Linked DNA regions of Homo sapiens. The protein of the gene in region 1 interacts with the protein of each later gene in a pairwise test. Each region holds a gene or a part of one and is shown on either strand. Other genes may lie near its edges.

The links.
Region 2: the proteins of RPA4 (region 1) and RPA3 interact in binary tests that used the Homo sapiens proteins (3 or more experiments, as listed by UniProt).
Region 3: the proteins of RPA4 (region 1) and PTRHD1 interact in binary tests that used the Homo sapiens proteins (3 or more experiments, as listed by UniProt).

What each region holds. Positions count from the first base shown.
Region 1 is NC_000023.11:96,877,146-96,888,216, forward strand, and holds RPA4 (replication protein A 30 kDa subunit), read left to right. Parts: upstream 1-6,762; 5' UTR 6,763-7,165; coding exon 7,166-7,951; 3' UTR 7,952-8,322; downstream 8,323-11,071. Other genes in the region: DIAPH2 (protein diaphanous homolog 2), read left to right, coding at 4,434-4,573.
Region 2 is NC_000007.14:7,706,230-7,717,448, reverse strand, and holds part of RPA3 (replication protein A 14 kDa subunit), read left to right. Parts: intron 1-2,222; 5' UTR 2,223-2,274; intron 2,275-11,219. UniProt on the Homo sapiens protein: As part of the heterotrimeric replication protein A complex (RPA/RP-A), binds and stabilizes single-stranded DNA intermediates that form during DNA replication or upon DNA stress.
Region 3 is NC_000002.12:24,786,173-24,797,531, forward strand, and holds PTRHD1 (putative peptidyl-tRNA hydrolase PTRHD1), read right to left. Parts: upstream 7,220-11,359; 5' UTR 7,206-7,219; coding exon 6,954-7,205; intron 6,904-6,953; exon of another isoform or gene 6,514-6,903; intron 6,413-6,513; exon of another isoform or gene 6,212-6,412; intron 5,608-6,211; exon of another isoform or gene 4,420-5,607; intron 4,410-4,419; coding exon 4,239-4,409; 3' UTR 3,556-4,238; downstream 1-3,555. Other genes in the region: CENPO (centromere protein O), read left to right, coding at 7,748-7,793. UniProt on the Homo sapiens protein: As a putative peptidyl-tRNA hydrolase, it might be involved in releasing tRNAs from the ribosome during protein synthesis. Some evidence, however, suggests that it lacks peptidyl-tRNA hydrolase activity.

The DNA.
Region 1 (11,071 bases):
TGGATAGGGCACTTATTTTGTGTTTCCCTTTCCTCCTTGAACTCAAGGAACTGATGGTGATGAAAATGGCATTTTGATTTCTTATGTTTGAAAGTTATAGGAGCCTCTCCAAGAACAACAGTATGAACCTTTGTAGATATAATCCCAAATATGTTAATCTATAGCATTATATTTTCAGAGAACATGATGATAGATTAGAAACTTATTTGATTAAAATAGCCAAAGAAATGGACTTCATTAGGGTTTGTAAATCATGGTCAATAACACTAACAAAATTACTGTTTTCATGAAAATATTGCCCATCCTATTTGAAGATGACATCCCTGATACTAATTGCTATCTATGTGCATGCTGTATAGCTGAAAAGACCTGTGTACAATCAATAGTTCTGTCTAGTGTCTGCAGCAAGATACCTTTACAGCTAAGAACCATAAAGCCTTTTCCCAAGTTGTAAGTAAGTCTGTTTTTACATTAAAAAATGACAGACCATGCTCAGACTAAGTCCATCTAAACTCAGAAGTGATTATCTCCACTGCAAACTAGAAGTGTTCTTTCTTAGAATATTGCTTCTCTGCTGTTGATTTTAACATTTCATATCAGAGCAAGGGGAATCTGTGACTATTAAACTGGCCCAAACTACCTTTTGATTATTTGTGTACTGTCTTAAAATAATACAAGCCCAGTCACATTGACTAGTATCTCCATCCTAATGATTTTCAAATTAAGGAATGGCTTCAAATTAGGAAAGCTCTTTGTTCACCTAGGTTTGGAATAGCATGATGTATGCTAATTGCTAACTTTGTCTGCATTATTTTTTAAAGATCAAATGGGCACAGTGGTAATTTTCATTAATCTCATACAGAGCAGCTAATTAAAATTTCCATTATTACCCATCCATTATCTAGTTGTTTCCTTTGTTCAGTATCAGAACAGGATGTTAATAAGCCATTCTTGTCTTACAGCCCTATTAAGTATTATGAGAATTAATGTATTGCACTATTTTGTTTTTAGGTGATTTTAAAAATATTTTCTTGCACCATATTGATTATACTGAAGGTACTTTGACACCTTGACATTTTGTAATAGAGATTTCAGAATTAAATACTTGTTGCTTTAACGTTTTATTCAATATTGAGCAAAAGTAGTATATAGTAGAGACAGGAGCTATCCAAGGACCAGAATATTTGTTTTAGTCTCATACTCTTACTGATTATGTGAACTTAGGCAATTACTTGGATTCCTCATTTTTGTAATGAGGATATTAGAAGAACTGATCTTTAAGGGCCAGTCCAGCCTTAGCTTGCTATCATATTTTCATAATTTTCAAATATGAACTTATGTTAAAATCTCAAAGTCCTTCTAAGCTTGGTAAAAAGCATCTGTTCTATAAAGTTATATATTCTCTGTCATGCTCTAGTAGATTGTTTGCTTCCATTCCTTATAACCAGAGAGGATCCTAAATTTTATAATTTAAGCTTGTTTCTAAGACTTGGGTGGGGAGTGAGCCACAAAGTGATGGGCTGGCTCACTTGTCCACAAGGAGTACCTCGGCCATAACCATATGTCCCAATTAGACTAATCCTGTAGGGAATCAATTAGAAAAAGGGAACCAACATTTTCTCAGTAGATTATTCTGTGTCCATGAGATGCCCAATATAAAATACCTCTGAGCTGTCCTCAGCATACCATACAGTGTCTCAGTTTACCTGTTCTATATTCAGCATCTCTGAATATATTACAACTGAAAGTCTCAGAACTATAATATTCTGAAGCAAAACTAAGCTTAGAATCTTCAGCATGTTGAAACTCATCACTCATCTACCCTTTTGTTTATTCTCTATCCATCCATCCACCCAACCATCCATCCATTCATTCATTCAGGAAATATGTATTGAATGCTTACTTAAGCACTGTCTTAAGATCTGAGGATATAGTGGTGAACAAGGCAGGCAAGAATCCTGTCATAAGAGCTTATGTTTTAGCGCAGAAGACAGTAAACAACTAAATTACAAAAATAAATTTTCATAGAGGTAATACTGTAAATGATATTTAAAATGGTGTTGCGATGATAACTAGAATGTGGGGTGGGGAGAAGACTATGGAGCTGAGATTAAAATGATGGGAGCCAGCAATGGAGAGGTTGGGATAAGGGTCTTCAAGGCAGAGAAAACTGCAAAATACAAAGGTCACGCAACAGGGTTAAATTCCATATACAATCCTCTAGGGGAAGATTAGTGGTGCCTTTTTATATATTAATTTAGAAATAACTTTGAGGATTATATGAAAGCGGTATGTGACTACAGACTTGAAAATTTTAATTCGTTTTACTAGTAGTTTTCAGACTGGCACATGTAGTAAATAGATCCCTTGTTACTGATGAACTTTGTGTTGTTGTAGAAAGTGAGTTGGCCGAGCAAAAATAAAACTATAATTTTGAATTTGCAAAATTATGCTTTAAATATTTACTTGCTATTATTCCTTGTGAAATAATAGATGGATAAGGAAGTTACAGGAATATGGACATGATCTCTCGGTGATGGTTTTACTTACTGTGCCATTTAGGTGATGATGATTCATCCAGTATACTTTTTTATTTGTGGAGGAGACGGAGTCTTGCTCTGTGGCTCAGGCTGGAGTGCTGTGGCGGGATCTCAGCTCACTGCAACCTCCACCTCCCGGGTTCAAGCTATTCTCGTGTCTTAGCCTCACGAGTTGCTGGGATTACAGGCATGTGCCTCCATGCCAGCTAATTTTTGTATTTTTAGTAGAGATGGAGTTTCACCACATTGGCCAGGCTGATTTCGAACCCCTGACCTCAAGTGTTCCACCCGCCTCAGCCTCCCAAAGTGCTGGGATTCCAGGCATGAGCCACCGTCCCCGGCCCATCCAGTATATTTTTAACGTCTACTGTGTCTCATAACGAAGCAAGAAATACCAAGTCAGTGGCCATTATACAAAATATGGGAGCTCAAAGTATGAAATCGTATTCCTTGTTCTGCAGTTATTATGGAGAAGTTCAATAATAACACACTTTTATTGAAGCTCACTAAATTCATGACCGGTGTTAGTTATGTGGCATAGATGGAGTTCCCAATGTAGAAGTGAGACAGACACAAATAATGACCTCTACCACAATATTTTAAGTGCTATAATAATTATAATATTGCCACAGCGCTAAGGGAATAGAGTTCCCCTATATGTTATAAGCCTTTATCAGACTTTAAAAATTTAGCATCTAATGGGATTTTTGAAATTCAGAAATTAAGAATGATTAACACTTTCTACATTGAGGAGGCATTCTCAATAAAAACCCAAATAGTGTGAAATCATAGGGAACTCATTTCTCATTATTAACATTTTTTTAAATGTCATATCCTCTAATGATAATACCTCTACCCAATGGGGAAAAATTCCTTTCCTTATGATCTCCTTATAATATTATATTTCCTATGATAGTATATCCTTATGATGTTATTTTATAGTAAGTATCCTTAGATGCTTAGCAGAAACTGAGTGTAATTTTTATGAACCTGTAAAATGGGACTCAAGCTTGGAGTCTTAATTCAGGGATATACATTTACAGTATAGGAAAGGGGCAATTATGATTAGGTACGTCTAGAATGTGAAACTATCAGTTGTTAGTATAGTGAATGTGTTGACAATATTTTCCTCCCAGCCTTTTCCCTGAACTACTTATATAGTTATAGCAAGATGATGAAGTTAAGGAGCTGTGATGAGATGAGTTCTAGAAACAACTCCATCTATATTGAAAGTTAAGTTAAAAACTAGTCACTATCAGATAAATGTATTTAATGACTTTTTAAGATTAATCTACAACCTGAGAGTACCAGAAAGGAATAATTGGGAACTGGTGAATGCTTTCAACTGATTTGATTAATTAACATGCTAATTGGAGACTATATTGTTTTACATTTTAATAACTGTTTTCACTTATTTTTTTTAGAAAGGCTGATACTCTGATATCTTTCAATAGATTTGGGTTATGTATAATGGTATATATTAAATTTTATTTGCTGGATTTTGTGGAATTGAATATACATATCTTAACTAGGAAAATTAATAAGATGATTTTTGAATGCTTATCCTCTGGGTTAAGGAGGACTAGCTAATATTAATTCTAATGCCTGAATTGTAAATTTAAGCACCCCTGTCAATGACACTTTATGTAATTCAAGTTCATATTCTATTCAGGTCATGAGCACCAGCACTGTAATTTTTTTTTTAAATGAGGTTGAGGAAAATGTTGAGATATATACAACACAATTTTACTATATCAATTCTGTGATCAAGAATTTTTAAGTGTGTAGCACTCTGCACACATTTTTATATAACAAAATAAATATTCTATGCATTATTTTACTTAAATTTTTTTTGAAACATTGTCTAAAATGGTCTCTTTGTTTATTTTATAGGGTGGGCTGAAAAACAGCAAACATGAATGCACCCTGTCTTCACAAGAATATGTTCATGAATTACGATCGGGTATATCAGATGAGAAACTTCTTAATTGCCTAGAATCCCTCAGGGTTTCTTTAACCAGCAATCCGGTCAGGTAAGTCGTTCTTATCATTTCGGTATGATTCATACAATTTGTAGTGCATATAATTGTTTGGGAATATAATAAGTTTTGTTATTTAAACCTCAAGATTTCCTGACTAAAAATCTGATGTTAATAAAACAGCAGCATCTGATTGTGAAGTCGTAAACTTTTAAAAATATATTTAGTTAGTTGGATCTCTAGTAATGTACAATTTTAAGAATACAAATGTTAACATAGAGCCAGAAGTTAAATATCCACATTTACATGGAAATCTATTTGTGGGATCAGATAATTATTATATATTTATTTATAAAGCAAATTAAGTATATTTGCTCCATGATTTTATTCTTTTTTTTTTTTGTGAGACAGAGTCTTGCTCTGTTGCCCAGGCTGGAGTGCAGTGGCACGATCTTGGCTCACTGCAACCTCTGCCTCCCAGGTTCAAGCAATTCTTCTACCTCAGCCTCCTGAGTAGCTGGGACTACAGGCACGCACCATCATGCCTGGCTGATGTTTGTATTTTTAGTAGGGAAGGGGTTTCACCATATTGGCCAGGCTGGTCTCGAACTCTTGATCTCGTGATCCACCTGCCTTGGTCTTCTAAAGTGCTGGGATTACAGGTGTGAGCCACCGCGCCCGGCCGATTTTATTCTTTTAAAACTTGAAAGGTATATATAACTTTATGTTCTTCTATAAGTTTTAGATATACTCTTCACATATTTCTGTAATTTTGAGATAGCAAAAAGTGAATTATTTTAACCAGTAAAAGAAGTGAGAGCATTAATAAACTTCTCAAAACTCTACTAATTTAGGCTATTAACTAACTACAAAGGATTGTTATTAGGTTACTTGCCAATGGTGGATTCCAGTAACTGTGGTTCCTTTATTAAGCCTTTAAATCAATAACACCCAAAATAAAATGTTTTATAAAGAAAAATAAAATTTCAATAAAATATCAAAACATTCTTGGCCGGGCGTGGGGGCTCACACCTATAATCCCTGCACTTCAGGGGGCTGAGGCAAGTGGATCGCTTGAGTCCAGGAGTTCGAGACCAGCCTGGCCAACATGGTGAAACCCCGTCTCTACCAAAAATACAAAAAAGTCAGCCAGGTGTGGTGATGTGCGCCTGTGGTCCCAGGTATTCACGAGGCTGAGGTGGGAGGATCACCTCAGCCCGGGAGGTGGAGGTTGCAGTGAGCCCATATCCCGCCACTGCACTCCAACCTGGGAGACAGAGCGAGACCCTGTCTCCAAAAAAAAAAAAAAAAAAAAAAAACAAAAAAACAAAAATCCGGGATCTATTTATGTAACTACTAGAATCTTAAGTTCAGAATTTACTCCATAAGAGTATATAAAAAACTTACTGTGATTTTATCCATGTTTTTCCTAATATATAATAGGTCTAAGTCTTGTACTTTTCTGTCCTGTCCACAGAGCCTTGAAAATAATTTAGAGCTCAGTCATTCAGTTTGGATTTATGTATAAATTGAAATATATTAATTACTTATTTATAGTGCACTTGGCAAAATGCCCAGAAAATTACAATTTTAAAACAACAAAAAATTTTTTAAAAGCCAGTGTTAAGATGTGACTTATCTTAGAGTATGATAATCGTTGAAAGACGATTGTCTTGCCATTTCTTCCAAAATGCTCCTAGGTTTTTTGTTTTTTGTTTTTTGTTTTTTTTTTTGAGACGGAGTTTTGTTCTTGTCACCGAGGCTGGAGTGCAGTGGTGCTGTCTCGGTTCACTGCAACCTCTGCCTCCTGGGTTCAAGCGATTCTCCTGCCTCAGCCTCCCGAGTAGCTGGGATTACAAGCCTGCACCACCACGCCTGGCTAATTTTAGTATTTTTAGTAGAGACGGGATTTCACCACGTTGGCAGGCTAGTCTCGAACTCCTGACCTCAAGTAATCAACCTGCCTCAGCCTCCCAAAGTTCTGGGATTACAGGCGTGAGCCACTGCGCCCGGCCTGATGCTCCTAGTTTTAATGGTTTGAATGAACAGGGGACGTGAGTTCTTGAGAACAGTAACTACGGTGGTGCATTTTTCCCCCCTGCACGTAACGTACAGCACTCTACCGTTTTGCCAAGCACTTTGTGCTCCTAAAATTTCTGTTGCATTGTTGTTTGAATGAATGAATAAATGAGTCTTTTAAAAGTAATTGTAGAAGTTGCAGCATTAAGAAATAAAGAGGGGGGCTAGTAAAAATGCATTTTTATAGAGATGTTGGGAAAGGCTTGCTTGAAATTACACGTGGGACTTTTAATAGATAGGCGCTTTGACCAGCTAAGCAACAGGGCTCCCCTCGTGTGGGACTTTTAGAATGTAGCAACCACTGACACACAGGGAAGGATTATGCGATCAGGTGAGAAGGTGGCCGACCCTGACTGGCTGGAAGCAGATGCATTCTGGTAGTTGATTGGTCCACAGGTAGCGTGACGCTTGTCACGTCCTCAGCCTCCCAGCATTCAATCGTAGCCTTTCGGACAGCTCGAAGCCTTCTGTGGAGAGCTCGAAGCCTTCTGTGGAGAACTCAAAGCCGTCCGTGGAGCCCCAGACGAGCCAAAGCCCACCTTCTCCTCAGCCTGAGCTGTCTTGAAGATGAGTAAGAGTGGGTTTGGGAGCTATGGCAGCATTTCTGCTGCTGATGGAGCGAGTGGAGGCAGTGACCAACTGTGTGAGAGAGATGCAACTCCTGCTATTAAGACCCAAAGACCTAAGGTCCGAATTCAGGACGTTGTACCGTGTAATGTGAACCAGCTTCTCAGCTCTACTGTGTTTGACCCTGTGTTCAAGGTTAGGGGAATTATAGTTTCCCAGGTCTCCATCGTGGGGGTAATCAGAGGGGCAGAGAAGGCTTCAAATCACATTTGTTACAAAATTGATGATATGACCGCGAAACCAATCGAGGCCCGACAGTGGTTTGGTAGAGAGAAAGTCAAGCAGGTGACTCCATTGTCAGTCGGAGTATATGTCAAAGTGTTTGGTATCCTCAAATGTCCCACGGGAACAAAGAGCCTTGAGGTATTGAAAATTCATGTCCTAGAGGACATGAACGAGTTCACCGTGCATATTCTGGAAACGGTCAATGCACACATGATGCTGGATAAAGCCCGTCGTGATACCACTGTAGAAAGTGTGCCTGTGTCTCCATCAGAAGTGAATGATGCTGGGGATAACGATGAGAGTCACCGCAATTTCATCCAGGACGAAGTGCTGCGTTTGATTCATGAGTGTCCTCATCAGGAAGGGAAGAGCATCCATGAGCTCCGGGCTCAGCTCTGCGACCTTAGCGTCAAGGCCATCAAGGAAGCGATTGATTATCTGACCGTTGAGGGCCACATCTATCCCACTGTGGATCGGGAGCATTTTAAGTCTGCTGATTGAGGCAGGGAAAACATCCTTTCATTTTTCGAAGACCCTTGCATCCAGCTGTGAGTAATTTTGACCTGTTGACTTTTTAGGAAGTAGGACTAAAAAAAAAAATCTCAAGTGGCATTCTTTGTCAACTCGCTGCTTTTCTAACTGCTTTGAACTTTTCGGATTTTCTGTATTTGAAGCTCAGAGAGAGACGGTGATGGATAAATTGACAACTCTGTAGGATTTACTAGCAAGCTAATGGAAACATGATTTTCGGGGAAGAAAAACTACAGAAAATGTAGAAATTTATTATTTAATTGTGTTGGAGCTTCTTTTTCCAAAAGAAAAACTAGTTGCAGTCAGGGAGCCAGCGAAAAGACAAAAAAAAAAAAAAAAAAAAAAAAAGTCTTGCTTGTTTTTATGTTAGACTTATTTTCCGTGTTTGGATTTAGCTTATTATAATGATACTGTTATCTCTTGCTCAATATAGTATTTAGTATTTGATTAATTCAAATGAGCTGAAGATACTAATTTGTGAATTCTAATGCTCAGTTCAAACATTTATGTGTGATTTGCTCTTATTACTATGAATTTATGTTTTCTTAAAATAAGATTATACTGTGTTTAAATAAACCATTTTTGCCAGGTTATCTTTGAAATTTTTTAAAATGTGGTGAAGTTCAATGATTATTTCATATATGATGTGGTATTTGGATGAAATTACAATTTATTGTAGTTGTATGGTAAATGGATGCCAGAGTTTCTGTAAGTTTGATGTGCTGGTGTATTATTTATTTTACTAAATGCTCTGTTTTATGTATAAAAAGGTAATTTTTAGGACGTTAGGGAAACAGCTCATAGGAATATGAAACTTACTGAGTTTAACACAAATTTATTCAAATGTTTTATTAAAGTAGTTTACAAAATCTTAACTTTCCTGTGTGATTTTTTTTTCTAAGTACATTTGAAAAAGCCTTTTTGTTTTATATCCTTGAGGATTAATAGTTTCACTTATCCAGAATTTTTTCTTTTCTATATATAAAATACCCAGAACATATGCTATAGCCTAGTTCTAACAATACATTTTAGTGTAGATTATATAAATTATGTGAGACTTTTAAATAATTGACCATTAACGAAAGCCCTCAGTTACCTATACACTAAAGATGGTGTCTTTCAAGATGCTAATTTTTTTACATTAGAGGAAATAAAAAACATATACTTTTTAATGAATATATGTTATATTTTATATATGTATATTCATATATAATATACAAATAGAAGAACATTATTTGTCAAATTGAATCATGAAAACTGCAACAAAAAAAAAATCTCTTAAATGGAACATTGCCAGTACTCCGTACTTTCAGGAAAACTTTCAGAAAATGGCCTGTGTCAGTGGCCATTAGAAAAACCACTAATTCTTGCTTAAGCTTTGTGATGCATATTTTTCTTCCCCTTGAAAGTAAAGAAATTGTAAATGGCACTCTTGAAAAGCACAGATGAATAACATACTATAAACCTGTTACTTAAATTATCAGACATTTTGAAAATTCTGGTCTTCATAAACCTAAAATATTCGGAACCACTTTTTGTTGAAAAAGGTTACCTGTCCTAGGGAAAATCATACTGGGGGAGAGGCAACAAGGGGCATATATACTTGGAATTGTGGAGCTGAAAGAGTCTAGCAGATACAATATTCTTTTGTGACATTAAAATCTGATATTTATGAGTATAATTATAGGTCACTCCCATAATTGCTTGAGCTGATTCAGCTGGCCAGTGGATGCGTAGCCACTTGTTTTTCCTATACTAGGAGCATGCGGAGGGGGAAAAAAACTCTTTTTTTTTTGTTTGGGAGGCCAAACTGCTTTTGTCCCTGCAAACTGATACACTGAGATATGTACACCTGAATTTAAGGCAGAAGACCAACCTCTCTCCCATCCTGTGAGGGGAAATGTCCTCTATCTGTGTTCGTTGGGGTTTTTTTAGGCTTTTAAAATTACTCCTCCCAACGCTTATTCTTCTGAATGGAATCGTGTGCTTTAGTGGATTCTGCTGCAGGTAAGAGATAGCAGTGGAAAAATAGTAAGTAGGTCTAGATATAATGTCAGTGGAAATAAAACACTTTTAGGCAGAAAATCACTGGATTGTTTTATACATGTATATTTAGTCCATGTTAAAGGTAGCAGATTTTTAAAGTTCATTTTGAACACCCACCTGGCATGCATACTTTTTCAATTTTGTTTAGACTGGGAATGACTTGGCTAATATCCCCTTTCTCCAAGGTCCTGCCCTGATAGTTAGCCACACCTTTTGAGGATAAGATACAAATCCTGGGGACATACTATTGACTATTTTGGGCAGGGACATTTAAGCCTGAGGAACCTGAAAAACATAATTGATGATTATAATCCACCCAAGGTTTTTTCCTATGGCTCACAGGCTTACGAAATGTATGTATTTATATTGAGGTTGATTCTAAATTAACTATGAATAAATATATTTGAAAGTGTTTTCAAGGCCAATATAATAATCTTACTATGGTCATAATTATTAGTGATCATTTTGTTACTTTTACCTACTAAATTTAGTAATATTTGGAGTAGAAGCTGAAAAACATAAGTTCTTATATTTTTTCAATTTCTGTTTACTTTTTATAACAGCAATTTAAAAAATGTAACTAGCAAGAATTATGTTTGTTCCTGAAACCTTTATTGAGTTCCTACTATATGCATTTAAGTGTTAACTTTAATTTTGATAAGCTTAAATTTTATTGACTTCTGAAATGCTTATTAAAGATAGTAATAGTTAACATTTTAACATTTATTTAGTATTTATTATCTCCCAAGTACTGTTCTAAGAGTAGGAGTTGTGTGTATGTGTTGTGCGTGTGTGTATGTGTGTGTGTGTATGTGTGTGTGTGTATGTGTATGTATGATCCCTGTGATGCGTAGATTTACGTTTTCAGCTCAGACCTCTCTGTTTCTCTCTCTCTTTTTTTTTTTGAGACAGAGTCTTGCTCTTGTGGCCCAGGCTGGAGTGCAATGTCACAATCTCGGCTCACTGCAACCTCTGCCTCCCAGGTTCAAGTGATTCTCCTGCCTCAGCCTCCTGACTAGCTGGGATTACAGGTGCCCGCCACCA
Region 2 (11,219 bases), on another chromosome or scaffold:
GAGGTTATCGTCTCACGCCAAAGAAACTGAAGGACGAGGACACACAAGGAGTGAGTTTAAGAGTGGAGTTTTAATAGATGAAAGAAACAGGAGGCTGGGCGAGGTGGCTTATGCCTGTAATTCCAGCACTTTGGGATGCTGAGGCAGGCGGATCACTTGGGGTCAGGAGTTCGAGACCAGCCAGGCCAACGTGGTGAAACCCAGTCTCTACCAAAAATACGAAAATTAGCTGGGCGTGGTGGCGCATACCGGTAGTCCCAGCTACGCGGGAGGCAGAGGTGAGAGAATCGCTTGAACCCGGGAGACGGAGGTTGCAGTGAGCCAAGATCATGCCATTGCACTCCAGCCTGGGCAACAGACCAAGACTCCGTCTCAAAAAAAAAAAAAAGAAAAAAAGAAAGAAAGAAAAAGGAAAAAGAAAGAGGAAAGCTCCCTCGTGCAGAGGAAGGGGTCCCGAACGGGTTTCCGGGTTCAGGGCAAGAAGAGGTTGGTTTTATAGGAGGCGGTGTCTGATTTACATAGGGCACGAGAGATTGATCAGACCAGGTGTGCCATTTACATAGCATGCTCCGCCTCCCAGGTTCACGCCATTCTCCTGCCTCAGGCTCCCGAGTAGCTGGGATTATGGGCGCCCGCCACCATGCCCGCCTAATTTTTTTGTGCTTTTAGTAGAGACGGGGTTTCACCGTGTTAGCCAGGATGGTCTCGATCTCCTGACCTCGTGATCCGCCTGCCTCGGCCTCCCAAAGTGCTGGGATGACAGGCGTGAGCCACCGCGCCGGCCGCGCCGGCCTCCACCCTAATCTTTTACTAGGCAGATGGGTTTGCTACCTGGCCAGCACCATGTTGCCTGCCTCTTTACTGTGCACGTGGTGACAAAGAAAAGGGAAGGTGGAGCCTCCATGTTGAACATACCTGGCTTCCAAGTGGCCCTTTACTATTGGCACAGCTACCAGCATTCACCTGTGCAAGCTTCCAGCTTGCTTATCTATGTCTGCAGCTCGATCTTTCAGGCTGCTCTTTTGTTAGAAAAGAAATGATTTGGGGGCTGCTTTTTATTTAAAAGGAAACCTTGCCAAGGACTCTCTTAGCCTCACTAACTGCCTAAATTTCTTTCGAGCTCCTGTATCACTTTGAAGTTATAAGAATAAATACAATTTTTCTTGGCATTGTTCCTTCCCATGTTGTAATAATATCGAATCCTGATTCAAGCTGTTATTCAATACAACATAGAACTATTTCTAGGGCATCTAAAACTACCTATGGCATGAGTAATTTTTGCAGCTGGATTGCTCTTATCTCCTCCTCCTCTTCATATTTAGATCCATCCTTTTCTGCCACAGCTTGTTTGCTTTCTGCATCCATAATTTCATTTTCAAAAAAAATTTTAACTGTAGCCATATGCCTGACATATATTAGTTTCTAATTTAAAAAATTATTCGATTTGTCTGAGATACTTAAAAACAAATATACAACAGCAACAAACTATGTTTTATACTATCTCCTTGTAATTAAGGATTTTTTAAGTGATAGTTTTCACCAAAGTTTAGTAAATGGTTAAAATGTAAATTTTGCTCTATGCTATCACGATACTATTTTTTAAATGTTTGATGCTATTCTATTTTATATGACTGCTACTACTGTCTTATACTTCTTTTCCCAAATTAAAACTCAAAACTCTTTCTTACATCTTTTACATCTCTTTACATACTCTGATTCATGGATTACAGGAAGGATATTACATTCAATGGTAAAACTATGACTTTTAGGTCATTTTTTTCTGGAAATTTGTGGATCTTTATTTTCATTTTTAAAAATAATTGCTATTGAAAAACTTTATCCTCATTTGAATGAAAACAGAGCTCTTCTTTGTATTGTTCATAATGGCATACCCAACACCCAGCACAGCACCTAGCACACAGAAATATTCAGATATTGTCGGAATGCATGAATGTTTATATAATTTCATGGAAGCATTAATTATTGAAATAAGAGTGCACTTCCCTAAGTTACTTATCAGGGAACTAGCTTTGGTTATCAGTAGCTTTGAGTTTCAGATTTGGGAAAAAATTCATTAAATTAGCTATTCTAACAGCTAGCTATAAGGTCTATGGTCAACTCTTCTGCTACTACTATTCACCAAGATCATTGATGAAACTGTATTCATAAATCTGGTGAAAACTTTTCAGTTCTTATCCTACTTGTAGTTCACTTTGTCTCAGGTACTCAGAAAAAGGATGTGAAGACAATGCACAGGGAATACAATAGTTTCAGGTAAGTTTATTTTCTTTAACTGTTTCTATGCTGAAGGTGCATATTAATGGTGAGATATTCTATAATTCAGAGTTCATCTCGTAAAACACTAAAAAAAAGTATTTTTTTTAAGTTCTAAGATTTGTGGATTTGCCTACAACAAAAAACTGCAGTTGGTTAGTTCTAGTTTCATTGCTGCCTATGGCAACTGTAATTCCTCTGTAGTTTTTTGTTGTTGTTGTTGTTGTTGTTTAATTCTAGTGCCCCTGTTCTGCTTAGTTCAACCACATGGTACAACAGGTCTGCAAGTGTTACTATCAACTAAAAAAAAAAAAAAAAAAAGAAAAATTTTTGAACAACCAGTTCATGAGGAAATAAAAAAATTACTCTACACAAGTGCCCAACACCCTAAATCCTGACTTTCTCCCAGCTTCCAACCTGTTACTTGCTTTAACCTTCCCCCAGGAAGGTTTTCAGCTGAGGCCTTTATTTGCAGTTAGGGACACCTGATGGAGTTCTAAGTCTTTCTTATGTAAGTCCAACATATAATACATTGTACACAACCTCCAACTGTTTTAAAGCAAATGAGAATTTAAAGATATTTACAAATCAATCTACCACTGATTCCTAGATCCTAAGTCATCTCACCCACACCTAAATTGACAGCTCCTTTTTTATTTTAGCAATTAAACTATATAGATTATTTCTAAAGCATTTAACAAAGTTTCGTAGCTATAAGTACTCCCTCTTTATTCATGTTTAAGTACAACCTCTTAATTCATATTTTAATTAAATCATGCAATTATAATAAACAAGTACATACATTTAGGAGCAAACAGCTTGACACTTCAGCAGCACTCTGCTGGAGCAGCCAAAGAAAGTCTGCTCATCAGAGAATAAACTAGATGCTGTCAACATCCAAGGATTTATAGAAAAGTTGGAAATGCTGGTCAATATGCAAAGTCATATAAGTGGAGGTCAGTTAAGACTGATATGCTTTTCTTTGAGAAAAGGCCATGAATCAAGTCTCAACACATTTCAGGAATTTCTATCATTTGTACCACCCTCTCTGACCACAGGACATTAAATTAAAAATCTTCATCAAAAAGATAACACACAAAAAAACTCAATTTTTGGAAATCTTAAAACATTTAAAAATAACTCAACAAAGAAGTATTGACGATGAAAAACGTGTGGGGCAGGTGTGGTGGCACATGCCTGTAGTCCCAGCTACTCAGGAGGCCAAGGCAGGAAGATCACTTGAGACTAGGAGGTCGAGGCTGCAGTGAGCTGTCTGTGGTCACACCACTGCACTCCAGCCTGGGTGACAGAGTGAGACCCTGCCTCTAGAAAAAATTTTTTTAATTTTTTGAAAAGAGAAAAATGTGCAAAATGACAAACGAATGGAAATAATACAAATTAAAATTTGGAAGCTGCTCAATAGCATTTAAAGGGAAATACAGGGCATTATTAATGAACATATTAGAATTTTTAAAAGCTTAAAAATGATGATCCAAGGACAAACAACCAACTTAAAAAGTCAAAATGAAACTAACAAAATAAACTCCAAAGAAAATGAAAAAGGAAATAATTAAGGTAAGAGCAAGAAATGATGAAACAGAAAATAAAATGCAAAAGAGGAACAATACATCCTAAAACTGGTCTTTTGAAAACACTAAGAAAATAAATAGTAAAGCAATAAATAAACAATATTGCCATGGGGGGGAGGAGCAGAACATAATGAAAATCCCAGAGATTAAAAAATGGTAAGAAGATATCATTTAAAAAAAAAAAAAACTCTGTCTATAAACTTAGATTTGTTTGTTTGTTTGTTTTTGTTTTGTTTTGTTTTGAGATGGAGTCTCACTCTGTCACCCAGGCTGGAGTGCAGTGGCGCAATCTCAGCTCACCACAACCTCCGCCTCCTGGGTTCAAGTGATTCTCCTGCCTCAGCCTCCTGAGTAGCTGGGACTACAGGTGCACGCCACCATGCCCAGCTAATTTTTTTTTTTTGTATTTTTAGTAGAAACAGGGTTTCACCATGTTGGTCAGGCTGGTCTCAATCTCCTGACCTTGTGATCTGCCTGCCTTAGCCTCCCAATGTGCTGGGATTATAGGTGTGAGCCACCGCGCGCGGCCCTAGAATATTTTTTGAATGAGCAATCACCTAGAAAAATATCTTACCAAATTGACACAATAGGCTAGTCTGCAATTATCAACAAATTCATTCGGTACATAAAAGCTACCCACTAAAGAAACACGAGGCCAAGATAATTTTTACAGGTGAATTCTATTAAAATCAAATCTTATACCAATTCTAACAACACTCTATGCCTATTATGTTTCTACAATAAGCCTTTAGCCAACCAGGAGCAACCCAAAAAAACAAAATGTATTGTATGTAGTAGTTCACAATTGCAAACATTATAAGCATTCTTTTTACAATCAAAAGTGGGGAAAAGATGTTTTCTTTGACACTTCTCTTCAACATACTAGAGGTCCTAGACCATGCAGTAAGACCAAAAGATAAAATGAAACCACAAGGATTTGAATGAAACAAAACTCACTATTCACAGAGGTTATAATTACGTACTTAGAAAATTCAAAAGAATCTAAAGATGAATTATGGGAAGTAAATATTTTATCAAGATGGTTGCTACAAGTATCAGCTACATGTTTCTATGCTGGCAACAAACAGAAAATACAACTTTAAAAATATTTACTATAATAATAAAACAAAAAAGCACTCTAAGAATAAATCTGACAAAAGCAGAAATGTGATTTTTATGAAAAATGCATGGCAATTTTACAAAAATGTATTAAGGAAACCTAAGCAAATGGACAGAAATATATTTCTGAAGAAGACTAAATATTGTAAATATAGCAATTCTCCCCTAAATTAATCTATATGTTCAATAAAATTTCAACAAAAATCACATCAGAGTGGGTAGGTTTGAGTGATTATCCATCTGTTATTCATTTTTTATTTATTTGGCATAAGATCAACTGATGCTTCATTATATAGAAAAGCAGAGAACAAAGGAAGGTTGAGATGGTTTTAAAGGATGGTAATATAATGAGCTTTATGACATTGGCTAAGAGAGAGAAAAATAGCCTCATAAAGTAGGAGAACCAAAGATACTATATATGTAAGAGTAAGCTTGGAAGATACGTGAAGAAAAGAAGATGAATTAATCCAAAATAGTACTAAGAAAATAGGTTATCCCTACAAAAAAAAATTAAAATCGGATCGCTATACCACACTATAACCAAAGTTAACCATAGAGCTATAAGAAGATGCTATAGGAAGATGACTTTCTGATCTCCAAGAAGGGACTTTTTAAATCAGACTGAAATATGAAAGTTAAGGAAAAGTTTTATATATTTTAAAACTGTCACATCAAAATGTCTCTTCATTAACAGATAAAAAGAAAAACATAAGTCATTAAAATGCAACAAAATTTGTAACTAGATCCCCTTAGAATCAACTTTTTAAATGACAGACAATACAGCAGGGAAAAGAGATCAATAGTGATTTTACTGAGCAAAAAAACCACATATGACTATTAAACATAAATAAAAATGTCCAATTCCATTATAAACAAGAAAATGTAAATTAAAAACACAAGATACCATTTTCTAACCAACAGACTGATAAAAATTTAAGTCTCACAGTATTACATGTTAAAAAGGATAGAGTATAATATCCTTGAAGTACAATATCCTTAAAAAGGATAGAGTATAATATGAAAAGGATAGAATTTTCATATACCACTTGGGAAAAAAATTTGCCATGATTTACTAAAGTTAACATGTGCATAGCCTGTAATTCCTCCCGGAAATAAAATCTAGAGGAAAGCTCACATATGTGCACCAGGAGACATGTACAAGGATGTTTGTAACAGCATCATGTTGTCTTTTAATTGAACTTTTTCAGATAATTCTAGATTCACAGGCAGATTGGAGAAATTATATGGAAATATCCCATGTAGCTTCTACCTGGTTTACCACAATGGCAACATCTTGCAAAACTATAGTTCAATACCACAACCAGGATATTTCATTCACACAGACCAGATACAGAACATCTCCATAACCACCAGAATCCCCAGTGTTATCCTTCTATAGCCACACACACTTGCCTCTAACTTTCACCCCATCCTTACCCACCGGCGACCAATGATTTCTCTATTTTTTGTGTACAGTTTGGTCATTTCAAGAATGCTACATAAATGAAGTCATACAGTACGTTACCTTTAGGGATTGGCTCTTTTCACTCAGCATAATTCTCTGGAGATTCATCCAGGTTGTTGTATATATCAACAGTTTGTTACTTCTTCTTGCTGAGTATTATTCCATGATATAGATATACCATAGATTTAACCATTCACCTGTTGAAGGATATTTGGTGTGTATCCAGTTTGGGTCTATTATGAATAAAATTGCTATAAATACTCAGTTTTATGCACATATACGTCTTCAATTTCTCTGGGATAAATGCCCAAAGTGTAATTGCTGAGTCGTATAGTAACTGCATATTCAGCTTTTCAGAAACTGTCTATTTTCCAGAGTAATTGTACCATTTTACATTCCTATCATCAATAAGTGATCCAGATTCTCTTCATCCTTACCAGCATTTGGTGTTATTACTATTTATTTTAGCTATTCTGATACAGGTTTGTAGAGACCTATCATTATGGTTTTAATTTGCATTATGGCTAATGACACTTATTCATGTGCTTATTTGCCATATGTATATCCTCTTCAGTGAAATGTCTCTTCATGTCTTTTGCCCATTTTCTAATTTGGTTTTATGTTTTTTTGTTTTTTGTTTTTTACTGCTGAGTTTTGCAAGTACTTATTCTAGGGACTAGTCCTTTCATTTTGGGCAATTTTTGCATAAAGTGTGAGACACAGATCAAGGTGTTTTGTTTTTTCTTCTGCCTACTAATGTTCAGTAACAGCACTGTTTTTAGGAAAACAAAACAAAACCCCAAATGTTCATCATCAGAACAGATATATAAATTGTGGTATATTCATCAATGGAATGTCAAATAAAAATGAAAGAACTAAAGATACATAGAGCAATATAGATGAGACCAGATACATGATACTGAGTGAGAGAGGCAAATTGCTGAAGAACATATTGTACATACATTGTGAGTGACTCGATTTATATATGGTTGTAAAACATACAAAACTACACATATGAAAAATATGTTAACACTATTTAAAAAGAGACCCCAAAAAAGCAGAATTTAAAGAGTGGAATTTACCTCTGAGGTGGGAGTAAGGAGAAGACTTAGAGAACTTCAAGGTTAACAAGAAATTATATTTCTTAAACCAATTGGTGGGTACACAGGTGTTCATCACATTGTCATTCTGAATATGTTCTCATTATTTAAAAAAAAAAACTTTAAAAGGTTATTTTTCAAATTGAGATTTGCATAAGCAAGAGCTAAGAATAATAGCTGGTAAGATGTCACTTTAAAGATCTTACCCTCAGCAGGTAAAAAAACAGTTATTATAAATTGTAATACAGGAACATACCAAACAGACCCTTGTTAGGGAAAGATGACTTCTGAGCAAACAGGTGACTTCTGACAAACCATTCTTATCCCACAAGCCTCATTTTGCCCTTGCAGGCTCAGCGCCTGACTTTTCTTTCAACTTCAAGTCCCCCAGTCATTCACCTTCTCTCCACACAGTTCCTTCTGCTTTGTTTTACAGCATTCTGCCCTCCTCGGGTGGCAATGCTTTAAGTCAACACCAACATCTGACCTCTCCAGCTTATCCACAGGACTTATCTTCTTAAGAGATGGTGTGAGGACAAAGGGTGAGCCTTCCTGACTTGAATTAATGACGACCCACAATTGAACAAGTTTCTAATGTTCATATTTACAAAGAATATAGTCTAGAATCTCAGTTAAATCCATATTAAAAGTAACCCCATGCATAACATTATTCACACATATAATTGAGATAAATCTCAGCACACAGATAGGAAAACAAAGACAGTCAATTTCAAACAACTAATAAAATTATTTAACCATTACAAAATCCCTTAACCATGCCGAATTTTGCAAAATATCTAAGAAATTATTATGCAAGACACTGAAAGATGTGTTATTAAGTAGTTAATTGGTATTTTTAATAGTTAGGACTGTTTTCCTCTTCTGTCTTCTCCTCCTCTCCTCTTTTCCTCCCACACTTTCTCCCTTCCTCTCCCTTTCTCTCTCTCTCCCTCTCTCTCTCTCACACACACACAGACACACAAACACAAACACACACCCCTTGCTGGTTAAAAACTTCTTAAAAACATACAACTGCCTGTATTTGTATATATACATATGCATTTGGTGTCTTGTTATAACTTCCCTTTAAACCACATATTAATGGGCAAAAAAAGTCCTAACATTCTATCTGTTGAAAAGCTGGGTCTGTCTCCAATAAACATAGTTGCTCGTTTCAGTCAAATCAGCTTATTTACTAATTATAAAATATAATTTTAAGATGGCCAAAACGAAGTAGTAGGAAAAGTATATTACTACTTTAATGGAATTTGCTTCTATTTTTGAGGTCTGTCCCAAAAGGACAAATATGTTGACTTATTTTTAAAGGTTTCCTTTCAATGTTTCAAGTTATAAAGCACTGCTGCTTTTGTAAAAGATCCTATTAATTTCTTAACAGAGTGTTAGACCTGATCCCCTTATATCCAAAATGGTAAATGCTGTCTAATAAATACATGGGTGATTGAATAAGGGTCACTGACACTTGGGTAACTGTTTAATACAGAAACAATTTATAATATATATCTCTCTACAAAACTAAAGCTGAGCAATCAATAATTTTGTCTTCCTTCGTCTACAAGTAGCTTATTCAACATTAACTAGTAAACCAAGGGTGAAAGGGAGGGTTGTAAATCACGAAGAAAAGATTCATTTTATTCTTAATTCCCACTTGAATCTATGTAAAATGTTAAGTTACAGACAGTTAAGGAGAAGCTGTTGTGTTTGAATATGTAATTGCTATTTAGATGATAATGGCGTGGATGTCGCAGCAGAACCATGATCCAAATTTGAATAAGGTCTTAATGAAGGAGGCTAAGAGAAGAATGACGACTGAAATACAACAGTGTCAGCAACAGACCTTAATGAAGCAAATTACTTTCAGTACCTTTGTGATTCAGGAGGAGCCGCATTAAAAAAGTGACAACTAAAGGATCAAAAGCAGGACCTTTGCAAACTAAACATGCTTAAAACATGACATCACTGTCTGGGCAACAAGGCATTGTGGAAAGCAGCCTCAATGTTTGGGTTTTACAGCTCACATAGCAAAATAACTACATTAAAAGATCTGGCTAGGCAAACCAGTTTCCTTAGAAAGCATCTTTATATTTCAAGTTAATGACATTTCTGAACAGAAAAGGACTACAAATGCCCAAAGATACCTTGGCCGATTTTTAAAAAGCATTATATATTAACACTAAGAATAGCTTTAAGGCAAAATTAAGCCAGATTTTGGATCACAGAAAACTAAAGAGGTCTTTTTTAAATTCCAAAATATCATTTAGTCTTTTATTATTTGTTAGCTTTATGAAGTATACAATGCATTCTACTTAATAAGTAGTGAAATCACTTTATATATTCATATTTTAAAATCAATTTCACTTTTACAAAATCACACTGAAGCAATTTGAGAGCATATGGCATTCCCACTGCCAAATGGAACATACGTTCAACATGTTTAAATGATTTACCCAAGGTAACATTGCTGATGGTGCTAGAAACTGAACACAAGGCTTCTGGCTTCCAGGGAAAGTCATTCAAGGCAAGCAAAAAGTACCGTAGTTACAAATTTAATTTGATACCTAGAGGATATTTTCTGAAGTCTTCTGAGTTACAGTAACTTGGTGATAACATTCATTCCATATTAATATTGTAGGCAGACAAGGAGTTTATAACCATAATGAATATAATCTTTGCTGTACAGACCAGTATTCACACAGGGTTGTAAAAACTGATTTTGCCTGTTTATTCCATCTCCTCAAATAATGTGCACAAACAGCAATCCTACCAACCAGGGAATGGTAGTACAATAGTTATATATTTATAATCAGAAAACAACTCCTCAATGCTAATTAATTAGTGTCCTGACACAGTCATGTTTCTGTTTCTAGAGACTGACTAAAAATGTTTTGACTTCAAAGACAAGAATGAGACAAGAATATAAGCCTGGCATTAGGAAAGATTTGCTGTCATCTCCCTGGGCCTCTGTTAGGATCTTAGCCACCCCTGCAAATGTTTGTGCTGCAATGGATTTTATTTTAAATCTAAGTAAGTCAAGATGCTCTATCCAAAAAATAACAAAACCAACAGATAGGATGTAGAACATACGGATTAAGAGCACAGACTCAGACAATCTAGTTTAAAATCCCAGCTGTCACTTACTAACCACGCACTCTTACGCAAGTTAGTCAACCTCATCGACACTTTGTTTTCCCATCTGTGAGTTAGAAATAATAGTACTAAGTTCTTAGAGTTCTTATGTAAATGAGTTATTATTAGTTATCTTCATTATTACCTACTAGTATGTGCCTTTGGATGGGTTACTTAAGTTTTGTATTCCTCATTTTTTCCAATTTTAAAAAATGATATCTAACATTTTCAGGCACAATTTAAATGAGGCTTTGGAAACTCTGGAAATATTACATATATTGTTAGCATTGTTATATAGGTTTCATTTTTGGTTTTGGAATCACTGAACCTAGTACAGTTCCCATGCTCTGTTGGTATTTCCTGAACTTCTCTCTCTCTCTTCCAATCATACATGCTCTAACCAGCAAACCCAGACTAGGGTGATAACATGAGCAGCCTCACTACTTCCACCTCTTCTAGATTTTCCCAAAATCTGTACCAACAGATAATTTTTAGACTCTTTTTGATGATTTTTTTCATCTCAGAAGG
Region 3 (11,359 bases), on another chromosome or scaffold:
CCTAAATCTGCTAACTCCCAGCTGTGTCTCATTTCTGTCTAGCTTCTTTTACCCCCAGACAAAGTCTCACTCTGTTGCCCAAGCTGGAGTGCAGTGGTACGATCTCGACTCACTGCAACCTCCACCTCCCAGGTTCAAGAGATTCTACTGCCTCAGCCTCCCGAGCAACTGGGACTACAGGCACGTGCCACCATGCCTGGCTAACTTTTTTTTTTTTTGAGACAGAGTTTCACTCTTGTTGCCCAGGCTGGAGTGCAATGGCGCGATCTCTGGCTCACCGCAATCTCCACCTCCTGGGTTCAAGCAATTCTCCTGCCTCAGTCTCCTGAGCAGCTGGGATTACAGGCCACCACGCCCAGCTAATTTTGTATTTTTAGTAGAGACGGGGTTTCTCCATGTTGGTCAGGGTGGTCTCGAACTCCCAATCTCAGATGATCCGCCCGCCTCGGCCTCCCAAAGTGCTGGGATTACAGGTGTGAGCCACTGCGCCCGGCAATTTTTTTGTATTTTTAGTAGAGACGGGGTATCATTATGTTGGCCAGGCTGGTCTCGAACTCCTGACCTTTTGATCCGCCCATCTCGGCCTCCTGAAGTGCTGGGATTATAGGCGTGAGCCACCCACCGCACCTGGCCTGTCTAGCTTTATACTATGTCTTACTGAAGAATTCAGAACTTAATTTTTTTTAAGATGCAGTGTCATTTAGAAACATTTTCCTAATTGGCTTGAATGGAAATGGTACTTGATGATTCCTGGATGGCATCACTCCCTAACAGAAAGGGGTAGACAATGGCCTACTTGATGGAGAACTCTTGGAGGGCAGCTCTGACGGCTGTGCCATCTGCATCTTCCCAAGTTTAGGTTCTAGCACGAAGTCCCAGGCACTGCTCTAAGGGGTTTGTACATCCAAACACATTTAAATCCCCACTTTACGGATAAGGGAACTGGGTCTCAGGGAAATAGAGTCACTGCCCAAGTCCACAGAGCTTGAAAGTATGAGACCCAGATTTGGACTCAAGCAGTTTGACACCAAAGCCTAGGCTCCTACTCACTGTTATGCTAGCTAATATAGTGCTCAATAAGTTTATTCAGTGTTATGAAAGATCGTATGCCTCCTACTTTTTTAAACTTTTAAGTTCAGGGGTACCTGTGCAGGATGTGCAGGTTTGTTTTATAGGTAAACTTGCGTCATGGGGGTTTGTGGTACAGATTTGATCACTCAGGTATTAAACCTAGAACCCACTGGCTATTTTCCTGATCCACTCCCTCCTCCCACCCTCCAATCAGTCCCCGTGTGTGTTGTTCCCCTCTGTGTGTTCATGTGTTCTCATCATTTAGCTCCCACTTTCAAGTGAGAACATGTGGTATTTGGTTTTCTGTTGCTGCTTTAGTTTGCTGAGTATAGTGCATATGCCTCCTACTTAATAGAAAAAAAGTCAGCAGGTATGGTCAACTTCAACTTTCTTTCTCCTACAATCTATTAAACCTACGTACATCTATATCTTCACCATCTGCCTTTCCACCAGTCTCAGAAAAGAAGTTTCCCCTCTCTCAGTTCAAGGCCAGTTCTTCCCGTAGCCTTTGACCCCATCTCTTCCTGTTTTCTCTGGACTTCATCAGTTATTCTATTTGGGAACTTTAATCTCTTAATCTCTCCTCTCCTTACTTTCTCCTCCTCACCCATCATCCTGCTCAAGATCTAAGAAAATCCCCACTAGGGGACCCAGCATTGATCTTTCCAGCCCCTTTTCAGTCATTATCCTCTCTCTCCTCCCTTTCAAGCTTCTGGAAAGGACACTTCTCACCTCTTACCTCCCTCCCCTCCCATTCTTTTTTTTTTTTTGAGACGGAGTTTTGCTCTTGTCGCTCAGGCTGGCGTGCAGTGGCACGATCTCTACTCACTGCAATCCCTGCCTCCCGGGTTCAAGCAATTCTTCTGCCTCAGCCTCCCGAGTAGCTGGGATTACAGGCGCCTGCCACCACACCCTGCTAATTTTTGTATTTTTAGTAGAGACGGGGTTTCACCATGTTGGCCAGGATGGTCTCGAACTCCTGACCTCGTGATCGCCTGCCTTGGCCTCCCAAAGTGCTGGGATTACAGGTGTGAGCCACCACGCCTGGCCTCCCATTCTTGTCTCAACATGTTACAATCTGATTTCTACCCTCACTATGCTATTTAAACTTCACTAAGTTCACCAGTACATTCCCAATTGCTAAATGTTTCCACGTTTTATTTACTGACATTCTATGCTGCACTTGATTGTTCTCTACCCCTTCAACTCCTCATTCACTTGGCTTCCTGGGGTTGGCTCTGCCCTCAGCACTCTACCAACTCTCCCTGTGAGAGAGACCCATCCACTCTCCTTGATTCAGGTGACCACCTTTCTTAAAGGGAAATCTTTTTTTTTTTTTTTTTTTTTTTTTTTTTTGTAGAGACAGGATTTCACCATGTTGGTCATGCTGGTCTCAAACTCCTGACTTCAGGTGATCCTCCCACCTCAGCCTCCCAAAGTGCTGGGATTATAGGCATGAGCCACTGCACCGGGCCCATGAAGGGAAATCTTATCTGGGATCTTAGCAGAACATTATCTAAGGGGGACGGGTAATATCCGTATAGGTTCTTAGCTACCTGAGGGCAAAACTGTTTTATGCACAGCCTGCCACAGCAGACAAACAATAGATATCTGTTGAACAAATTACCCCTTATAAACTTTGCTTCACAGATGTCTAAGCAATTTCTGTAGATGTGTCCAAATGTTTATAGAAATATTGTAAACGTTGTACAGAGTGTTACAGATGTTCAGAGAAGGAACTATCATTTTTGGCTTGGTAAGAATTTTTGGCAGTGATAGCACTTGAGCTGGAAATAGTTTAAGTAAAGTCCAGGGGCAGGAAAGGGAGGGGAGGAGTAGTAACATTCAACTCCCATGCCAGAGACTGGAGAATAGCAACTGGAGGGACTCTGTGGAAACATCAAGTTTGAATAAGGGAATAGAAGATTCAACTAAAAAGATAAGTAGGAGGCCGGGCACGGTAGCTCACACCTGTAATCCCAGCACTTTGGGAGTCCGAGGCTGGCGGATCACCTGAGGTCAGGAATTGGAGACCAGCTTGGCCAACATGGTGAAACCCCGTCTCTACTAAAAAAACACAAAAATTAGCCAGCTATGGTGGCATGCACCTGTAATCCCAGCTACTCGGGAGGCTGAGGCAGGAGAATGGCTTGAACCCAGGAGGCGCAGGTTGCAGTGAGCAGAGATGGCGCCACTGCACTCCAGCCTGGGCAACAGAGAGAGACTCCATCTCGAAAAAACAAAAAAGATAGGTAGGAAATACACATGAGGAGGGCCTGAAGTCTAAGCTAAGGAGTGCTGGGATTACTCCATAGGCAGAGAGGAGCCTAGACTACACAGGTAGGTGTTCAGTCGTCCTATGTGGTGGCAAAGCAGCTGCTGGATTGGAGTGTCACACTGGCGGTGAACAGACCGTGGGACACGCCAGTGAGCAAAATGAGAGGCTGACACAGGGCAACGGCACTGAAATGACAAGAAAACAGCTGTAGTACTTGACAGATTTCATTGAATCTAATAAATCTGTATGTATGTACATATATATAGACACACACAAATTTTAACTTGTTATTAATCTTTATAGAGACAGTGTCTCACTCTGTTGCCCAGGCTGGAGTGCGGTGGCATGATTAGAACTGACTGTAACCTTGAACTCATGGGCTCAAGCGATCCTCCTGCCTTGGCTTCCCAAAACCCTGGAATTAACAGATGTGAGCCACCACACTGGCCAAATTTTAACATCTTTGTTATTGAAATACAAGTGTTTAATTTGCCGGCATATTTTTTAACAATACATAAAATACTACCGCATCTTAAAGTTGATGTTATCTTAGATTCAATGAAATATGATAACTGGATGTGAATAAGAAGGAATTCAAAAGCAAAGTTTCAAACCCGAGTGACTGGAAGGGAGTTTCCTTGAGCCCCACAGGAGAGTCTAACCAAATCTTCTATTTGAGCAATGATCCCCAGACAATACTGCTCTCCCACCTTCCCCACTTGAACTTATTAATAAGAGGAAGTAGTTATTAATGACAACTTTAATATGAACATGTGCTTAACCCTCAAGAAATTGTCACAACTGAAAGACGGGAGCAAGCTGACACTGCAAGGAACACATGATGCTTTGGAATGGGTGGCCTGCGTATTCAAACACATCAAAGCAGCAGTTACTTGAACAATCGGAACTTCTTCAAATACTGGCCCACTTCTTCCTTGGGGTAGGGCCGGAGAGCAATACAAGTGGCGATATTCTCTGGTTGCTCAAGCCACAGCATGTGGTCAATGTTCTTCTGTTGCAGGGTCTCGGCCAGCTCCTTTAGGGTGGTCTCATCTGGGGCCTAAAGGAGAAGAACACAGAACACAAACTGAATAGCCCACTTAGGAAGTGTCAAAAGGCCAAAAAAGGTTTCGGGAGTCCTCTTGCCTGAAAGTGGAGTAACAGCTTTACCAAGGAGGGAGCTGCAGAGCAATGATGTCATTCCGTGGTGCACTGGGGAGGGGAGAGAGGCTTCATATTCCAGTTTAGAAAATGGAGATTTGTATCTTCCCTTGTGAGATGTTGTATGCCCAACACACACATGTGTAATGTGTAATTCTGCTCTATACATTTTCCAGCTCTCCTATGGCTGGCGCCCATAATTTTAAGTGCCTCTGACTTTAAGAGCTGCCTAGTGGAAGTTTTTTTTTTTTTTTCTTTTGAGACAGAGTCTTGCTCTGTCGCCTGGGCTAGAGTGCAGTGGCACGATTATCAGCTCACTGCAGTCTCTGGCTCCCGAGTTCAAGCAATTCTCCTGCCTCAGCCTCCCGAGTAGCTGGGATTACAGGCGCACACCACTACACCTGGCTAATTTTTGTATTTTTAGTAGAGACGGGGTTTCACCATGTTGCCCAGGCTGGTCTGGAGCTCCTGACCTCAAGCAATCCACCCACCTAAGCCTCCCAAAGTGCTAGGATTACAGGAGTGAGCCACCATGCCCGGCCCCTAGTGGAAGGATTTCTAAAAGCACATCCACTTCCACTTTCCTCCACCCCTCCCACTCTACCTCACTGAAACCTAGAGGGGTTTTCCTTCTGCTGGGATGGCTCCCACTTGTTTATTAAAGGGAGAGTACAATATTCTCTAACATCCTTCTGAAATTGTTTCTGGGTCATCCTTACTGCCAATTCACCCATGCTGAATCCCATTCCAGGAAGTATTAAAACGATCACTCAGAAAATTATTATTTTTGTGTTATTTTGCATAAAGTTTATCTCTTACCTATGAAGGCAGAAGCCACTAAGCTACTCAGAGGCTTGTTTTAATAAATTAGAGAATGCCAGTATTGCGACTCTTAACCTGCTGAGTCCTTCTGGCAGAGCTCTGCTGGAGGACTCATCAGCTTCTTCAGCCTCGGGCAGCAGCAGAGCATAGTGAGATACAGTGAGGCTCTGGAATCAGACTACTGGACTCCAAACTCTTGCTGACTGTGTGATCGTGGATAAGTTAGGTGACTTCGCTGGCCTCTTCGTCCCTTTATAAAACAGGAATAATGCTTCCTAATGGGGATCAATGAAATCAGGCTTGGACCTGTGCCTGGCACACACTAAGCACTCAATAAATGTAGTTAATCCTGGTATTTTCTTATATTTTATTGGCCCTTCTGACTACAGCGGCACCTCAATGTAATCAGTAGCGACTCCTAAGTCCCTTTCTTGAGTCATGACTAACAACTAAGAATCATGAGACCCTCTTTTAAACTCAGGGGAGTCACTTAATCCCTGTAGGCTTCAGAGAGTTTCACCTGCGACAAGAGGAGTCTAACCTGATTTCTTGAGACCTCTTACTAGGAAGAAAATCTAAGTGAAAAGCCAGCAGCTTCTGTTCTGCCTACACAGATTCTCAAGGCATTTTTCCTACAGGTTACCGCTTGATGTTTCACTATCCAGCAGCAATTTTTCTCTTGAAAGATAATCTATCTTTGTCAGTTACCCATGAAGGGATTACTCCACCCCTCCACCTGAGTTCTGGCTTAAAGCCGTTTTTCCTTATTATAAAAAGCCGTTTATTATTAAAGCCGTTTTTCCTTATTATAAAATATGTGCTTAAGGTAGAAAATTTTAAAAATACAGATTAAGCATTAGGAAATAACCAAAATCTCACCATGCACTACTTAATATGTAGATGTATTTCTTTAGTTTTTCCTTTCAAAGTCTGGATCATTCTGTATATATAGTTCAGTTAGCTTCGCATCATGAGCACTCTTCCCGACCACTAAATATGCTTCAAAACCATAAGGGCTCCCATGAATATCCTTGTGCAAAGCTCTTTGGGTGCATCTGATTATTTTCTTAGGCTACATCTCTAGCAGCAGGATAGAGAGTCAAAGGGTAAGGGTGAGATTTGTTTGGTCATCTGCAAACAGAACCTGACTGCTATTTTAAAAGGTGTACCGATTTACACACCTGGTGCCTGGTCTAGCTGAAGCTAGGTTCAATTTATACTAACGTTTTTAGTATTTATTTTCAAATAATTTGGCGTCCTACCCAGGTAAATACTCAGTTTGACTTCACTTTGCACTGTCCCTTCGGGCTCGGTTTTGCAGGAGGACAGCACTTTGGGGCATGGCTTTAAAAAGTCGGCCAGTGCACAGGCGGAACAGCGGGGACACAGGAGCCACCACTTTACCGCGAGCCCAGCAGGGGGCGGAGGACTGCTGTCCACTCTTCACACAGTCAGGCCCTTCCCAAGGGCGCACCTCCAGGGAAACAGCTCCAGTCTAAATGTTAACGATCACCCCAACTCCCGCCGCACCCACTCCCCGCAGCCAGGCCTTCGGACCGAAGACCACACCCACTTCCGCCCTCGATGTCTCAGCACCTCCCCCTCCGCCCGAGTGCCTCACCTCGAGGACCACTTTGCGCATGCGCCCCAGCTCTTGGAGGTAAGCGGCTGTGTGCGGGTGGTCGCGGTGAGTGTGCAAGGCCGCGGTGGCCGCGTGACAAGCCTGCGCTACCAGTGCGCCCGCCGGCCAGGAGAACGGAGCTTGTGATAGATCCTTTCGTAACACCAAGTATTGTACCAGGACCTGCGGCTCCGCCCCAGAGGCCGCCATCTTCCTGACCACCCGAAAGGCCGGACCTACTCCCCGGTGCATCTTGGGATCAGGGCGGGGCCCTGAGCGCCGCCATGCTTTTGTACGGCAGGATCGCAAAGCACGCCGGGACCGGTTGGTTTGGTTTTGAAGACGTGGATGGCGGGAATTCTCGCTTCTGGCCTGGGTGAGCTAGAAGGGAGAAGGTAGGGGAAAGACCCATTGTCGGACCGGACCGTGGCCAGGGTGGCGGGCTGAACGGCCTTCTTAAAACTCCTTCCGTGGCCGGGAAGCCCGCTGGACCAGAGTAGCCGTGGCCTCGGGAGCGCGCCGGGGCCGCGGGATGGGCGCGGGGGTGGGCATGGACTCTGCTGGCTCGGACGATGGGAGAGGGCGGGCGGCTCAGGAAAGGGGATCCTAGCCGTGACATTTGTGTCATCCGCGGCCCAGGGGTTGTGCCTGAGTGGTGTGTGCCCTGCCGTCTGGGTTTGAATGGGACTAGATGTGATGTGACTGTTGCCATTTTTCTTTTATTAGCAAGGACATTGGAGTCCCTATCACCGGTTGCCTAGACAACTTCATGGGAAGGCCCTTGGGAATCTGAGATGGAGCAGGCGAACCCTTTACGTCCAGATGGCGAGTCCAAAGGAGGTATTCAGAGGGTCGCCGCCTCCTTCCTGCTGCTGCCCAAAGATGACCCGCAGGCTGAGAGAGCCCTTTCCTCCTGGAACTGACGTGGGACCTGGCCTGTTTGGGAGCAGAATAGTGAAAGGAACTAACATTGAAGACAAAGGGACAGGCAGCCAAGATTATTCGAGGAGGAAAAATGGCTTCGTTTCTAGGCTCCCACCCCTTTTGAAACGGATAAGTTGCATCCATCATATGCTCAGTGTTTATATTCTGAACTGCGGTTCTAGCCAGGGAGGTCCCTTTCCTCTCCCCGGATTTTTTGGGCCATGTATGCATTACTCTTGAGGGAGGGCCAGTGTAGGGCAGTGACTTTAGTGTTGGCTAGAACTGGTTTTGAGTGTTGGCTCTGCCATGATAAATATTGTGACCTTAGGCAAGTCACTTTATTCTCTGCCTCTGTTTCTTCATCTGGAAAATGGAGGTGAAAATAGCACTGTAGTTGTGGTTGTGGAAAAAGTATTTCTTTTGTGGTGGAAAAGTATTGAACTCAGACTTTTCAAGTGAAGCATTTAGCACATGTCTAATATATAGGAAATATTCAATGAAAGGCTTAATTCTTTACATACTTTGTGTCTTAAAATGTAGAAGGTGTTTAAAGAATGCTTGTTAGAGTTGCTTAGAATTACGAAACTATTACTTTTACTTAGTCCTTAGTCAATCCTTTGGAAACTGAGATTTGCGTTTGAATTTCTGTCCAGGAGTAAGTTGCTTTCTTCTTTAGTGCCTAGTAATATTTGTGGACAGTTCTGGTTTTGTGTGACTTTATGTTCTTTGCTACTAATACTTTTTAGAACTTTGAAATACTTACTCAAGCCTGATGCCTAAATCCAAAGGGTTCTACGTTAGTACTTTGGGAAAGCTTGCCATAAAACCTAACTTAAATTACAGTTTTAAAAAGAATTTCTGAGCGCGTCAGTGAATTTGGTTATCCTATTTTTCTCTGGGTCATCATTATCATTGATAACAGAGAAGTAACTATATTCAGCCTAAGATGACTTAAGCTGAGACTTTAGATAATAAAAGTATATGGGGTAAGATTTATTGTTACTTTAAGACTAAAAATAAGTTTGGTGACTTTATGTAGTGGAAACATGCTACACTCAGGAGTAACCTGTTCTCTAGTCCAGGCCTTATTTCATTTCTGTTAAAGTAAGTGATGAGGTGGAAGTTTTGGATTATCAAGAGACTTAGACCAGTCTCCTTATTCTCTACCCAAAACAATATTTAAACACTTAGCTGTTACCCATACTGGTTTTATCCCTCTGCTTGTTTGATTTCAGTTTTTTGCTTATTATTTGAATTCTCCCCACTCATTTGAGAAGGAAGGACATGGAGTTGTAGTTGCAACCAGATGATTTATTCAAATAGGCAGGGATTTTGACTTTTTTTGGGACAAAGCTGACTGGCTAGGATGAGATGCAATCATAACTTCCAAGGTAAAGCAGGCCCAGCAGATACACTCCCTCTTTTCTGTAGTAGCAACGCTAAACAACAACGCTACCCCCTTGGTGTAGAGGGAATCAGGTCGGTAAAGAAGCTGGGCAGGTTTGAGAGCCTGAGAAGAGGGCTGTGTGGAAGTGCCTAGAGAAGGAGCAGCATGATACTGTTTTGAACACCTACTTATCTCAGAAACTTTGGGAATATTGATATCTACTGTTTTAGTAATATAGAATTTCCATAAAGTAGAATTTGGTGAGGCGTCTCCTCTACCACCCTAAATTATTCTATGTGTGCGTGCTTTTCAGATCACCTCCTGGTTGGACATTAATTTTTGTAAGCTCCGTGAGGACAGGGACTTCGTTTTGCCACCACAGTATGAATAACTTCCAGCACGGTCCTTGGTCCATAGTAAATTCTCAATGCATAGTTGTTGGATAAATAGAGATTGGTGAATAAAGCAGTTAATCACGTGCTAATTATTAGGACTAATTTATTTAATTAGAATTTTGGTTTCTCACGATTATTATTGCGGTAATGTGGGTTTTTCTGTGGACATGAGCCAAGTGAATGTAATCTCCAAGAGTGTCATGCCTGGTTGTCCGTGTTTCGGTAAACATTTCCGGAGTGTTGGCCGGGCGCGGTGGCTCACACCTGTAATCCCAGCACTTTGGGAGGCCAAAGCGGGTGGATCACAAGGTCAGGAGTTCAAGACCAGTCTGGCTAACATAGTGAAACCCCATCTCTACTAAAAATACAAAAATTAGCCGGGCATCGTGGTGCATGCCTGTAGTCCCAGCTAATTGGGAGGCTGAAGCAGGAGAATTGCTTGAACCTGGGAGGTAGAGGTTGCAGTGAGCTGAGATCGCGCCACTGCACTCCAGCTTGGGCAACAGAGTGAGATTTCGTCTCAGAAAAAAATAACCATTTCCGGAGTGTTTACCATGTGTAAACACTTTGTGCTAGGGTTAAGGGATCCATGGGTGAACACAAATGCACACGGTCCCTGATTTTGGAACTTTAAGGTTCAGTGGAAAAGATAAGCAAATCAAATAATCACACTAATGAATATACAATTAAAACTATAGTGGCCGGGTGCGGTGGCTCACGCCTGTAATCCTAGCACTTTGGGAAGCCGAGGTGGGAGGATCGCTTGAGCTTAGGAGTTTGAGACCAGCCTGGGAAACATAGTGAGACCCCATCTCTTTATTTAAAAAACAAAAACAAAAAAACTATAGTATTGTCTCAGAAGGATCTTTGAGAGCTTATGAGCTGGCACCTGACCTTGTTCTGAAGGTGCTACAAAGGTTTCCCTGAGGAAATGCTGCTTGCATTGAGTGCTAACGAGCTAGAGTAGCTGCAGGTGAAGGTGGATAAGGGGCGGCTGTGGAAGAGCCTTTGGTGTGTGTGTTGGGGGTGGGGGGATCAGGTCAGTAAAGACGCTGGGCGGGTTTGAGAGCCTGAGAGGAGGCCTGTGTGGAAATGCCTAGAGAAGGAGCAGCATGATACTGATGAGGGTAAGAGAGATCCAGAGGCCAGTAGGCCTCGTAGGCAGTGTGAAGTCATCGAAAGGCTTTAGCCAGCTGGATGACACGATCCAGTTTAGATTTTGAAATATGGCTTCAGTGTATGGGCCACCTAGGAAACTTGTAATAGGCCAGAAATGGTAGTAGCTTGAACTACAATGGTGGCATTGCAGATGGGGAAAATGGAAATATTTTAGAGATACTAGGAATGTATATTCAATAGGATCTGGTAATGGATTGGGACTGGGTCAGGGAGAAGGTGTGAGGAAGAAAGTACTGGTTTACACAGCTATAGATGGATAATGGTTCCAGTCATGGAGGGGTTTAGAAGGGGAGATGATGAATTCAGTCTTGGACATGTTGATTGTCAGGTTCCTGTAAGTCTTCCAAGTAGATACACTGAGAAGGCAGGTGGATATTCTGCTTTCTCAAGAAGCAGGAGAGAGGTATAAGCTAGAGATACATATTTGTGTGGCATCGACATGTATGGCCATTAAGGCTGTGGGTACTGATGAGATTTCTTCTGGAAAGAAGAGGTCTTAGGACTGAGCTCTGGAAAATTTC